4 linked regions of the Homo sapiens genome follow. The protein of the gene in region 3 purifies or fractionates together with the protein of the main gene of each other region. This does not show direct contact. Each region holds a gene or a part of one and is shown on either strand. Other genes may lie near its edges.

The links. Proteins that work in one complex are often made in the same cells at the same time.
Region 1: the proteins of IFT25 (region 3) and IFT172 purify together in Homo sapiens (affinity purification with mass spectrometry; 2 studies listed by BioGRID and IntAct, with this or other methods). This does not show direct contact.
Region 2: the proteins of IFT25 (region 3) and ME2 purify together in Homo sapiens (affinity purification with mass spectrometry; one large-scale study listed by BioGRID and IntAct). This does not show direct contact.
Region 4: the proteins of IFT25 (region 3) and KATNIP purify together in Homo sapiens (tandem affinity purification; one large-scale study listed by IntAct). This does not show direct contact.

Annotation. Positions count from the first base shown.
Region 1 is NC_000002.12:27,479,744-27,483,243, forward strand, and holds part of IFT172 (intraflagellar transport protein 172 homolog), read right to left. Parts: intron 1,518-3,500; coding exon 1,303-1,517; intron 407-1,302; coding exon 283-406; intron 1-282. UniProt on the Homo sapiens protein: Required for the maintenance and formation of cilia. Plays an indirect role in hedgehog (Hh) signaling, cilia being required for all activity of the hedgehog pathway.
Region 2 is NC_000018.10:50,882,118-50,885,617, reverse strand, and holds part of ME2 (NAD-dependent malic enzyme, mitochondrial isoform 1 precursor), read right to left. Parts: intron 1-3,500.
Region 3 is NC_000001.11:53,932,200-53,935,699, forward strand, and holds part of IFT25 (intraflagellar transport protein 25 homolog), read right to left. Parts: intron 1-3,500. UniProt on the Homo sapiens protein: Component of the IFT complex B required for sonic hedgehog/SHH signaling.
Region 4 is NC_000016.10:27,556,644-27,560,143, reverse strand, and holds part of KATNIP (katanin-interacting protein), read right to left. Parts: intron 1-3,500. UniProt on the Homo sapiens protein: May influence the stability of microtubules (MT), possibly through interaction with the MT-severing katanin complex.

The sequences.
Region 1 (3,500 bases), on a different chromosome or scaffold from region 3:
ACCAAAAGGAAAGAGGCTACAATCATTGGACTCAAGGGCACAACATATTAATGGGATAAAAGGGAAAAACTAGCCCTGCCTACACACAATTTTTTGTCCCTTTTGTGACCTAGGGTAAAGTATGAATTTCTCTTTCCTGCCTTTAATGCCAGAATTTTAGGTCAGGGTCAAAAGGAAAGAGGAGATTCTATAGTGTCAGGGAACAGTGCTTTAGGATAAGGCAGGATTTTTTTCTAGTTTGGTGAAAGTCACCAATCCAGAAAGGGATTACTAGTAACACACCACACAGAGCCGTGAGCCATCCCGCTTCCAGGCCAAGGCAGTGATGGTGTATAAATTGGTAATCTCCTTGGGCTTTGCCTCTTCCCAGATGCTTCTTCGAGGGATCCAGTTGAACACCCGAAGCCTGAAATAAAGTATGTGGCTTTTAGAAGAGATTGAGGCTGAGCTAAAGAGTGCAAATGGGCTGATAACCAAAGGAAATTAGTCTTGCTATATCAGAAAAGAAAGGAAATAAAAAGAACAGACAAGCTAGGCAGTCTAGCAGAAGAGGATATAAAGGTGCACAGGAAATAAGCTGGGAAAATCAAGGCAAAACTAAAACAGAATAAGAGTGAGGGGAGCAGAGAAAACAAAAAGACCAGGGCAGGTGAGAAAAATAAGCTACTAGGAGCAAAAAAATATGGAACAAGGAGATAAATGGTAGGAGTCAGTGAAGAAAGAAGAGAATACAAGGAGACATAAGATTGAAGGGGATAGAAAGACAGGACTGATAAAGCTGGGGTTAAACACATGCCAGAGAAATGATGAGACCTGGAACATGGCTGTTTATCTGCTGTTCCATCATTCATTCATTCATTCGCCAAACATCTGAGCATATCTTAAATATATATAGCATATAGATGCTAATCTAGGCACTGAAAAGATGAATAATAAGCCCCCTTCTCAAGGACTCTGATTTAGCCATCTATCTGGCTAAACAACAGTAGTTTGCAAACAACAAACTGTAATATAATGTGAGAAACTCTAAGCGGTCTCAAAGGGGGCAATGGAAACAGAAAATAGAGATGAATTCTGCTGTGGAAGTGCAGGGAGCGGCACAGAGACAAAACAAGAGCCCAGGACATTTTGGAACTGCCAGCACACCAATGGATAGCGGGAGCAGGAAGAGGAAAGCGCATGAATTACATACATACATTTGATTCTGCTCCAGTCTCGCACTCTGGCTCAGAATAATTTGGCTAAAGCAGAGAGTGTTCGCAGGGAAAGTAGGCAGTAGATAAAACTGGAAAGGGGACTTACCTGTCATAACTTCCTAGCACAACAGACTGGCCCCCAGGACTTGATACAGCTGTGGTGAACTCCCGCTCCTGAGGGTCACGGCTATAATCAAAAGTTTGTAGCATGTGACCTTCTTTTCCATAGGCTACAATTTTCCGATCACAGCCTGCAGCCACGATGCTATTGGTTGCCCATGCCAAGGCATAGGGTGGACACGGGTGGTTAACCAACTTCCCCTAAGACAGAAGTAGAGGGTTTCAATCACTCTTCGAAGACTCCACCCGAGAAATTCCTCACTCTCAACACCTGGTACATTCACTCTGACCATCATACCCTGCAGAAATCTCTTCCAACATTTCCCTATCCCAACACATCCTAATCCTGAACTCTTCACAAATTGTCACACACACACACACACACACACACACATACACACACACACACACCCCTATACACATAGGGGTTGACCTTGTGCTCTAGAAAAACCTCAAAATGCTTGTATATTGGAATTTTCTTTTTTCTTTTTTTTTTTTTTGAGACAGAGTCTCACTCTGCCGCCCAGGCTGGAGTGCAGTGGCACAATCTCATCGCTGCAACCTCCGCCTCCCCAGGTTCAAGCGATTCTCCTGTCTCAGCCTCCTGAGTAGCTGGGATTACAGGTGTGTGCCACCATACCAGGCTAATTTTTCTGTTTTTAGTAGAGATGGGGTTTCACCATGTTGGTCAGGCTGGTCTCGAACTCCTGACCTTGTGATCAGCCCGTCTCAGCCTCCCAAAGTGCTGGGATCACAGGCGTGAGCCACCACGCCCAGCATGTATTGGAAATTTTTAATATGCACCTGGTAAAGCTCCTCAGAAAAGGAGATGTGCTACACATTAACCAACACCGTCTGGGCCCACAAAGAGCATAGGGCTTCTTTTTTTAAGGAGGGTCAAATTTCAGTATTATACGAATAATTCTTCTTTTTTTTTTTTTTTAGATGGAGTCTCACTCTGTCGCCGGGGCTGCAGTGCAGTGGCGCGTTCTCACCTCACTGCAACCTCCCCTCCCGGGTTCAAGCAATTCTCCTGCCTCAGCCTTCCGAGTAGCTGGGATTCCGGGCACGTTCCACCATGCCCGGCTAATTTTTATATTTTTAGTAGAGACGGGGTTTCACCATGTTGGCCAGGCTGGTCCTGAACTCCTGACCTCAGGTCATCCACCCGCCTTGACCTCCCAAAGTGCTGGGATTACAGGAGTGAGACACTGTGCCCGGCCTATACAAGTAATTCTTTTTTTTTTTGAGATGGCATTTCACTCTTGTTGCCCAGTCTGGAGTTCAATGGCATGCGATCTTGGCTCACTGCAACCTCTGCCTCCCAGGTTCAAGCGATTCTCCTGCCTCAGCCTCCCAGAAAGCTGGGATTACAGGCATGTGCCACCACGCCCAGCTAATTTTTTTGTATTTAGTAGAGACGGGTTTCACGTCAGGCTGGTTTCCAACTCCTGACCTCAGGTGATCCACCCGCCTCGGCCTCCCAAAGTGCTGGGATTACAGGCACGGCTCACAAGTAATTCTTAATGTAAATGATTCAAACAACACACAATTATATAGAGTAAAACATGAAAGTTTCCTTTTTATCCCCCATCTTTTTCCTTTCCCCTTTCCAGAGTAAACTATTAACTCTTTTTTCTATGAATCTACATACATAAATATATATATTTTACATAAATGGGAATAATTTTCACTTTTCATTACTCTAAGAGTTTTTATTTCCCTTTGTCTCAAGGTCCCTTTCACCTAATTCATCCCTTCTTATAAGCAGTAAGCTCCAGGCTCCTAAACACAAATCCTCTCAGTGGCCACATCCAACTTTTTCTCTGTCCCTGAGTTCTCCTCTAGCTTCCTCTCTTAGTATCTCAATCCAAATGCCTTAGAAGTCCAACCTCCTCTAGGAGGGCTCCTGGAATTTCCTTATCCCCTATTCCACAGCATCTTTTTTTTTTTTTTTTTTTGAGACACGGTCTTGTTCTGTCACCCAGGCTGTAGTGCAGTGGTGCTATTTCAGCTCACTTGCAGGCTCAACCTCCTGGGCTCAAGTGATCTTTCCACTTCGGCTTCCTGAGTAGCTGGGACTACAGGCCCATGCCACCATGCCCGACTAATTTTTGTATTTATTTTTTGTTTTTTTGGTAGAGACAGGGTTTCACTGTGTTGCCCATGCTGGTCTCAAACTCC
Region 2 (3,500 bases), on a different chromosome or scaffold from region 3:
ACAAAATTGGGATGGTTGATACTCTGCTAAGTGATGAAAAAAAACCATTTAAATTTTATAAATTGTCATTTAAAAAAAGTTTTATATATTTTTTTTTTTAGAGACAGTATCTCACTCTGTCACTCAGGCTGGAATACAGTTGTATAATCACAGCTAACTGCAGTCTTGAACTCCTGGGCTCAAGTGATTCACCTGCTTTAGCCTCCCAAGTAGTTGAGACTACAGGTACAAGCCACTGTGCCCGGCTAATTTTAATATTTTGTACAGCTGGCGTTTGCTATGTTGCCCAGGCTGGTCTTGAACTCTTGGCCTCAAGCAATCGTCCGATCTCAGCCTGTGAGTTGCTGGGATTAGAGGCATGAGCCATCACACCCAGCTAAAAAGAAGTTCTAAAAGAATTCATCATATGTTTATGTGGCTCTTCCAGGAGAGATAGCATTATTTACTACAGTTAAAACTTTGGGCCTGGCGTGGTGGCTCATGCCTGAAATCCCAGCACTTTGGGAGGCTGAGGCAGGCAGATCACCTGAGACCAGGAGTTCGGGATCAGACTGGCCAACATGGCAAAACCCTGTCTCTACTAAAAACACAAAAAATTAGCTGGGTGTGGTGACCGGCGCCTGCAATCCCAGCTACTCGGGAGACTGAGGTGGGAGAATTGCTTGAACCCGAGAGGCGGCGGCTGCAGTGAGCCGAGATTGCACCACTGCACTGCAGCCTGGGCAACAAGAGCGAAACTCCGTTTCAGACACACACACACACACACACACACACAAACACACACAAACTTTGGTGATTAGTACTGCAAGGTAGGCAAATCTAAAATGGTATGGAATACATTTTATTTTGAATCAAAGGCAATCCCCAAAAAATACATTTTGGAATCAGTAGTTAAGATCAGGTTGCTGATATACGAAATCTTCTATTTTCAACTCCTAGTTAAAATCTTGCTCCTATCAAATAATGAATTTGGGCCTGGCGCAGTGGCTCACGCCTGTAATCCCAGCCCTTTGGGAGGCCGAGGCAGGTGGAACATGACGTCAAGATTTCAAAGCTATCCTGATCAACATGGTGAAACCCAGTCTCTACTAAAAGTACAAAAATTAGCCGGGCATGGTGGTGCGTGCCTGTAGTCCCAGCTACTCGGGAGGCTGAAGCAGGAGAATTGCTTGAACTCAGGAGGCAGAGGTTGCAGTGAGCTGAGATCACGCCACTGCACTCTAGCCTTATGACAGATTGAGGCTCTGTCTCAAAATAAACAAATAAATAAAATAATGAATTTGGCTTGTATATAAAGATAACACCACCTCTCAAATCTACCTCATAGAAAACTGTGATGATTAAATGAGAGAATATATGCAAAAGAGTATTATAATTAAAGATAAAACATATATTATTCAAACTATTAGATAATTTTATTAGCAAGTGATAGAGTAAAATAAAATATAAAAGTAATTTTAATAGTGTCTTTAGTAGGCATAATTAAAAAAAAACTTAAGGAAAAAAACAATCTTTGCCGAAATTGGAACTTAGAACACTTACAGACAGAAACAGACAGGTGGGCTTAATATCTGCTGGAGACAAGACAGAACGAGGAAAACACACACCTAACTCCTTATGTTACACAAAGATGACAGAAGGAGAACTATAGGAGTGAGTGAAGTAAAAACAGGAAATAAAAGAAGGTGGGGATTCGAATTTTGAATGACTAAGTAAAATCAAGCTATTTACTGGAGAGTTTCTTTTTTTGTTTTTTAGACAGAGTCTTGCTCTGTCACCCAGGCTGGAGTGTAATGGCACAATCTTGGCTCACTGCAACCTCCACCTCCTAGGTCAAGCAATTCTCCTGCCTCAGCCTCCCGAGTAGCTAGCACTACAGGTGCCCACCACCATGCCCGTTTACTTTTTTGTATTTTTAGTAGAGATGGGGTTTCACCATATTGGCCAGGCTGGTCTCAAACTCCTGATCTCAGGTGATCCGCCCGCCTCGGCCTCCCAAAGTGCTGGGATTACAGGTGTGAGCCACCACACCCAGCAGGAGAGTTTCTTGAATACTGGAATATGCCCGTGGTTTCTTGCCCTGGTATGGTCACTGCCTTGCCCCTTCCATGAGTAAGCACAGACAAAAGAACTACCTCAAACAGGGAAGCAGTGGAACTCACCCTCTGGGTGGTATTTACAAACTGGACTGGGACTAAAGCTGTTAAGACATTGGCTGCTGGAGACTATTCTCCCTGGCCCCCTACCTGGAGGGAGAAGGAAATAGTCAACACCTGAGAAAGACTGTTCACAGGAGACCAAAACCCTAGACACTGTTCACTAGAAAGAGCTCATGACAGGGCAACAAGCACAGGCTTTGCTGTCAGACAGACTGGAGAGTGAATCTGGACTGGACTCAGCTAATTACCAGTTCAGAATCAGTTGTGTCACCCAGGCATTCCTGAATGATCTCTGAATTGGTGTTAGTTTAGGACATGTTTTTGACTGGTCTATGACCAAAGGAGGAAAAACTAACACAATGTAATATAGTTTTTCATAATATTAAATTTATTCTGTTTTTATGTTGTAACTATGACCTTCCTACCTTTGTGGTGGTAAAAATGTCCCTTTTTTAAGGAAAGGATCAGGACAGTAGATTGCAGTAGTTTTTTTGTTTGTTTTTTTGAGATAGAGTCTCAAAAATCACTGTCGCCCAGGCTGGAGTACAGTGGTGTGATCTCAGCTCACTGCAACCTCTGACTTCCAGGTTCAAGCGATTCTCCTGCCTCAGCCTACTGAGTAGCTGGGATTATAGGTGTGTGCTACCATGCCCAGCAAATTTTTGTATTTTTAGTAGAGACGGGGTTTCACCATGTTGGGCAGGCTGGTCTCGAACTCCTGACCTCAAGTGATCCATCCACCTCTGGCTCCCAAAGTGCTGGGATTACAGACATGAACCAATGTGCCTGACCAGATTGCAGTAGTGTTTAAGAAGATTCTCAACCTTGACAGAAATAAAAGTTGGAGATCTTACGTCTGGTCCCAATTGTCCCCCACACATAACAGTTTTTTACTTGTTGGCAAAGTCCAAAAGTCTGGAAGCCATTGACTTAGATGTTTCATTTTTCTCATCAATAAAGTGGGGGAGGGGAAACTTGCAGAATTCTGTGTAGTAATGTTGATATATACATATTATTAATAGTGTCAAGCCTTTAGAGCTTTACAATAGCATCACTATAAAGAGCTTGACTACTTGATTTCAAAGTTTGCTTTAAAAAACCCATACGAAATAGTCTAGCAGAGTGGTCAAAGGGCAAGTTCTGGAGTCAAACTGCCTGGATTTAAATCCCGTGGCGAACACCTGTAATCCCCAGCACTTTGGGAGGCCAAGGTGGGTGGGTTGCTTGAGCTCAAGAGTTCCAGGTCAGCCCGGGCAACATGACAAAACCCCATCTCTACAAAAAATTTAAAAACTAGCTGGGGGTAGTGGCACACACCTGCAGTCCTGGCTACTTCAGAGG
Region 3 (3,500 bases):
AATCAGCCAGGTGTGGTGGCACATGCCGGTAGTCTCAGCTACTTGGGAGGCTGAGGCCCAGGAGGCAGAAGTTGCCATGAGCTGAGATTGCACCACTGCACTCCAGCCTGGATGACAGAGGGAAACTCCATCTCAAAAAAAAAAAAAAGAAAGATTTTCTAAGATCCCTTCTGATTTCTTTTTTGACCCATGGGTTATTTAGAAGTGCAGTGTTTAATTTCTAAGTTTTGGGGGGTTTTCTGAATATCTTTTTGTTGTTTATTTCTAATTTAATTACACAGTGGTCAGAGAACATACTATCTAAGATTTTAATCTTGAAATATATTGAGACTTATTTTATGTTTCAGCACATTTCAGTGAATGTTCAATATGCTGGGTTTTAAGAGACAGAGTCTCGCTCTGTCACCCAGACTGCAGTGCAGTGGCACAATCTTGGCTCACTGCAGCATTGACGTCCTGGGCTCAAGCCATCCTCATGCCTCAGCTCCAAAAGGAGCTGGGACTACAGGTACACGCCACCATGACTGGCTAATTTTTGTGTTTTTTCGTAGAGATGGGGTTTTGTCATGTTGTCCAGGCTGGTCTCACACTCCTGAGCTCGGGCAATCCGCCTGCCATGGCCTCCCAAAGTGCTGGGATTACAGGCGTGAGCCACCATACACAACCCATCAATACATTCTTGTTCCATGTTGTTGATTATAGTGTTCTATAACCGTCAACAAAGTCAAGGTTATGACATTATTCAGATCATCTATGTCTTTATTGATTTTCTGCCAAATTGTTCTATCATTACTGAGAAAAGGGTATTAAAATCTCTAACTATAACTGTGAATTTGTCTATTTCTCCCTTTCATCTGTCAGATTTTGCTTTATGTAGTTTAAAGAACTATTATTAGGTCCATATACACTTAGGATTATCCTCTCTTCCTTTTTCTCTTTTTTTTTTTTTTTTTTGAGGCGGAGTCTCACTCTGTCGCCCAGGCTGGAGCGCAGTGCACAATCTTGGCTCACTGCAAGCTCCGCCTCCCGGGTTCATGCCATTCTCCTGCCTCAGCCTCCCGAGTAACTGGGACTACAGGCATGCGCCACCACGCCTGGCTAATTTTTTTTATTTTTAGTAGATACGGGGTTTCACCATGTTAGCCAGGATGGTCTCGATCTCCTGACCTCGTGATCCGCCCGCCTCGGCCTCCCAAAGTGCTGGGATTGCAGGCGTGAGCCACCGCACCCAGCTATCCTCTCTTCCTAATGAACGGACTCTCTAACACTATAACGTGTCCCCTTTGTCTCTGGTAATACTCCTTGTCTTATATTTTTGTCTGACATGAATATAACTACAGCGACTTTCTTATGTAAACTGTTTGTAGGATGCATCTTCTTTCATCCTTTTATTTTCAACTATTCATATCTTTATATTTAAAGTGCATATCTTTTAGACAATATATATTTGGGTCTTGGATTTTTATCCAGTCTGACAATCTGATATTTAACTGGAGTGTTTAGCCTCACTGATATTTAGTGTAACTACTGATATGGTTGGGTATAAGTCTACCATCCTGCTATTCATTTTTGTCTCTCCCTCCTATTCTTGTCCTGTTTCTTCTCTCCTGTTTCTGAGTGAATAATTTTTTTAAAATTCCATTTAATTCCTCTATTTTTTTTTAGCTATACCTCCTTTATTAGAAATTTTTGAAATAGCTGCTCTCTAGGTTACAACATAAAAACCTCATGATAGTCAATTTACACTGAACATCACTTTTGTGCCATTGTTGTCATATATTTTACATATATAATATATCCCATAATACAGTTTTTTTCATTAAGTGGTCAGTTATCTTTCAAAAAAATTAAAAGAGGAAAAAAAGGCAGTCTTTTATATTTACCCAAATATTTATCATTTCCAGTACACTTAATTTCTTCTTATAGGTTTGATTTTCCATCTAATATTATACCTCTTCAACCTGCAGGATTTCCTTTAGCATTCCTTATGATGCAGGTCTACTTGTGATGAAAAATGCCTTTATCCTATCTTCATTTTTGGAAGATAGTTTAGCTAGACACAGAATTCTGGGTTGACAGGGTTTTTAAATATTTGCTTGTTTCTCCCTTCCCCAGTATTTAAAAGATATTGCTCCATTGTTGTCTGGCTTCCACTGTTTGTGATGTAAAGTCAGCTGTCATTAGCACTATTGTTCCTCTGTATATAATAGTTTTTATTTCCTTCTAGCTATTTTAAATATTTTTTTCCTTTTTCAGCAGTTTGACTAAGATACAATGTCTGTATTTATCTAGCTTGGGGCTTGCTGAGTTTTTTGGGTCTATAAGTTGGTATTTTAAAATAAAATTGGGAAAAATTCAGCTCAAAAGTAGAAACAACCCAGATGTCCATCAACTGATGAATGCGTAAATAAAATGTGCTATATCCATACAATGAAATCTTGACAATAAATAAGAATGAAGTACTGATATGTGCTACAACATGGATTAACCCTGAGAACATGTAAGTGAAAGAAACCAGGCCAGGTGTGTTAGCACATGCCTGTAATCCAAGCACTCTGGGAGGCCAAGGCAGGTAGGTTGCTTGAGGTCAGGAGTTCAAGACCAGCACAGCCAACATGGTAAAACCCTGTCTCTACTAAAAATACAGAAATGAGCCAGGTGTAGTGGTGCACACCTGTAGTCATAGCTACTTGGGAGGCTGGGACATGAGAATCACTTGAACTCAGCAGGCAGAGGTTGCAGTGAGCTGAGACTGCACCACTGCATTCCAGCTTGGATGACAGAGCAAGACTCTGTCTCAAAAAAACAAAAAACGAAAGAAAGAAACCAGTCACGGCTGGGGGTTGTGGCTTACGCCTGTAATCCCAGCACTTTGGGAGGCTGATGCAGGTGGATCATGAGGTCAAGAGATCAAGACCATCCTGGCCAACATGGTGAAACTCCGTCTATACTAAAAATACAAAAATTAGACGGATGTGGTGGGGCCTGCCTTAATCCCAGCTACTCGGGAGGCTGAGGCAGGAGAATCGCTTGAACCCAGGAGGCAGAGACTGCAGTGAGACAAGATTGCGCCACTGCACTCCGACACTGTTTCAAAAGAAACCAGTCACAAAAGACCACATGTGTATGGTTCTATTTATATGAAATGTCTCAATAGATAAAATCTACAGAAACAAAGTAGATTAATGCTTGCCTAGGGCTAGTATGGATGGGAAAATACAGGGTGACTGATAACAAGTGTGGGGTTTCTTGTGTGGGGTTTCTTTTTGGGATGATGAAAACGTTCTAAAATTGATTGTGGAGATGGCTATGTAACTCTGTGAATAGGCTGGAAGCCACTGAATTGTATATTCTAAATGGGCGAATTGTATGGTATGTGAATAATATGTCAATAAAGTTGTTACCCACCCCCAAAAAAAGGCCAGAACTACTTTTTTTTTTTTTTTAAGAGACAGGGTCTTGCTCTCTCACTCAGGCTGGAGTACAGTGGCACAAACTTC
Region 4 (3,500 bases), on a different chromosome or scaffold from region 3:
CGCCCGGCTAATTTTTGTATTTTTAGTGGAGACGGGGTTTCACCATGTTGGCCAGGCTAGTCTTGAACTCCTGACCTCGTGATCTGCCCGCCTCAGTCTCCCAAAGTGTTGGGATTGCAGGCGTGAGCCACCACACCTGGATTTTTTATTTATTTATTTTTTTTATACAGAGTCTCGCTCTGTCGCCCAGGCTGGTGTGCAGTGGCGCGATCTAGGCTCACTGCAACCTTTGCCTCCTGGATTCAAATGATTCTCCCACCTCAGTCTCCCAGGAAGCTGGGATTATAGGCAGGTGCCACCATGCCTGGCTAATTTCTGTATTTTTACTAGAGACGGGGTTTCACCATGTTGGCCAGGCTGTTCTCAAACTTCTGACCTCAAGTGATCCGCCTGCCTCGGCCTCCCAAAGTGCTGAGATTATAGGTATGAGCCACCATGACCTTACTATTTTTTTTTTTTTTTTGAGACAGGGTCTTGCTCTGTTGCCCAGGCTAGAGTGCAGTGGCATGATCACAGCTCACTGTAGTCTCAACCTCCTGGGCTAAGGTGATCCCACCTCAGCCTCCCGAGTAGCTGAAACCACAGGCATGTGTCAACATGCCCAAATAATTTTTAACAATTTTTTGTAGAGGTGGGGTCTCACCGTGTTGCCCAGGCTGATCTCAAACTCCTGGGCTCAACTGATCCTCCTGCCTCAGCCTCCCAAAGTGCTAGGACTACAGGCATGAGCCACCATGCCTGGCCTGAAATCACTATTTTTGAATATGGAAAAACATATTGATAGACACTGTACAGCGCAGTGTAAAACCTCTGGGTGTGAGAGCAGGTAGGCAAGTGTCTAAAAAGATGAGACTGGAGGGGAGCTAATTCCCCAGAGAAATTCTATACTTCAAGGTGATATGATCCATAGGGCAATTGTTAAAGCTGCAAAGCCCCATGGGACATCAGTAGTCACACTTTCTTACTTTTACATAAAGTGCTCTGCAAACAGTTTCAAGTTCTTCCTTGCAACCAACCACATTGCTCTGCATTAGCCTACTCCCATTTGGAAAGAGAGAAGCAGTCATGGGACCAGATGCTGAGGGAGCTGGGAATGTAGTCAAAACGGGTACCTTTCAAAATGTATATTATTCCATCAGCCCAGTGGCCAGTTCTTCCCCACAGACTCACTCTCCAGGTGTGAGAACCTGGCCACACACTGGCAGTAACAAGGCTGAAATGGGCCTTCCATAACATACTACCAAGTGTAGACCTTATTCGACTGAGTCCTGGCTCTGCTACCTACTAGGTGTGTGGTATAAAACAGACACAATCACAGTATCCCATTGAGCTGTCTCAGGAATCAAATCAGATCTGCCACGGCAACAGTCAGCAAACGTTTCCTGTACAGGCCCAGATAGTAAATATTTTTGGCCCGTGGGCCACATAAGTCTCTTTTACAACTACTCAACTCTGCAAGAAAACAGCCATGGACTATATGTATGTGAAAGGGTGCTGCTGCATTCCAATAAAACTTTATTTACAATAGCAGGCAGTGGGCCACACTGCTTTGGGAAAGGGGAAGACCTCTACAAATATTATCTTCTAAGGACTCCCATGTTGAAATGTAGTCATCTGTTTATGTCTGCTTTCTCACCATACTATGAAGTTTCTAAAGGCAGATAATATATTCCCTTTTTTTCAGATTAAAACAAAAAGAAACTGGGCATGGTGACTCATGCCTGTAATCCCAGCATTTTGGGAGGCCAAGGCAGGCAGATCACTTGAGGTCAGGAGTTCGAAACCAGCCTGGCCAACATATGAAACCCCATCCCTACTAAAAATACAAAAATTAGCCAGGTGTGGTGGCACACACCTGTAATCCCAGCTACTTAGGAGGCTGAGGCAGGAGAATCACTGGAACCCAGGAGGCAGAGGCTGTAGTGAGCTGAGATCGCACCACTGCACTCCAGCCTGGGTGAGAGAACAAGACTCTATCTAAAAACAAAAAAACAAACAAAAAGAATAAGTATAGTCCAGTATGGCATACAAGGAAGTCCACAGGAGTTTTCACAACTGTACAAGTTAATACTAAAGTAGAATTCTAAGTACAAATGCTGACAGGCCTAGGAGTGACAGACACAATGAGAGAAGCCAGTCATTAGACAGGCCCACCTCCCTCTTAAAGGGCAAAGTCTCCACTTAACTCGGGTGGTGGGACAATTGTTGCCATGCAGAATTCTGATTTGGTGTTAACAGACTTTATTGATATTTTCAAGAAAATACCACAATCAGGTATTTATAAGAAATCTGCTCATTTTTCAATGTTGACAACTAATTCAAAAATTTAAAAAACAAAACATTATGAGCCAAATAAACATGCATGTGGGCTGTTTCAGCCCACTTGTGCAAGCTCTGATATAAAGAATTCATTTCCAGCCAGGCATAGTGGCTCATGCCTGTAATCTTAGCAACTTGGGAGGCCAAGGTGGGAGGATCACTTGAGCTCAGGAGATGGAGACCAGCCTGGACAACATAGCAAGACCCCCATCTCCACAAAAAATAAAAAATTAGCTGGGCATGGTGGCACACACCTGTAGTCCCAGCTACTTGGACAGCTGACATGGGACGATCGCTTGAGCCAGGAGATGGACGCACCAGTGAGTTATCTCACCATTGCACTCCAGCCTGGGCAACAGAGCAAGACTCTGTCTCAAAAAAAAAAAAAAAAAAATCCACACCTGTAACCGTAGCACTTTAGGAGGCCAAGGGGTAGGGTTGGATCACCTAAGGTCAGGAGTTCGAGACCAGCCTGGGCAACATGGTGAAACCCCGTCTGTACTAAAAATGCAAAAATTAGTTGGGCGTGGTGGCATGTGCCTGTAATCCCAGCTACCCAGGAGGCTGAGGCAGCAGAATCACTGGAACTCGGGAGGCGGAGGATGCAGTAAGCCAAGATCGCGCCACTGTACTCCAGCCTGGGCTACAAAGTGAGACTCCACCTCAAAAAAAAAAAAAAAAATCAACTTCACAGAAAAATGTCAAGAATAGTACAATGAATTCCCATATCGCCTTCACCTGGATTCAATCTTACTCATTTTGGCATCTCTGAATTCCAATGCACGGAAGGCACTGAAATGTTGAATCATGGAATGAATCTCATAAGGAAAAATAAGCAAAACATTATGGGCCGACTTCCTATAAGTTAAAGTGACAGGAGGAACGAACTCTGAAAAAATCTGAGAGAAAAGAAACTAATCAGATAGAAGGATTGGAACAAGAAGAAAACAGAACAGACACAAAGAGTCTATGGGATGTATGTTTATTTCACCTGCTGAATGCTTGCTTTGTTTTATTGCATTTGATTGTTATTTTATTATTTTTTTTGCTGGGTTTAAGTAGTAAGAGAAACAGACAAATCACCAAGAAGCCAGGTAAATACCACACAAGGACAGGAGAGACCAGCTAAACCGATGGTGTACTCTCAGCAAAACCTTCCTAATTCAACCATCACCTGTTTG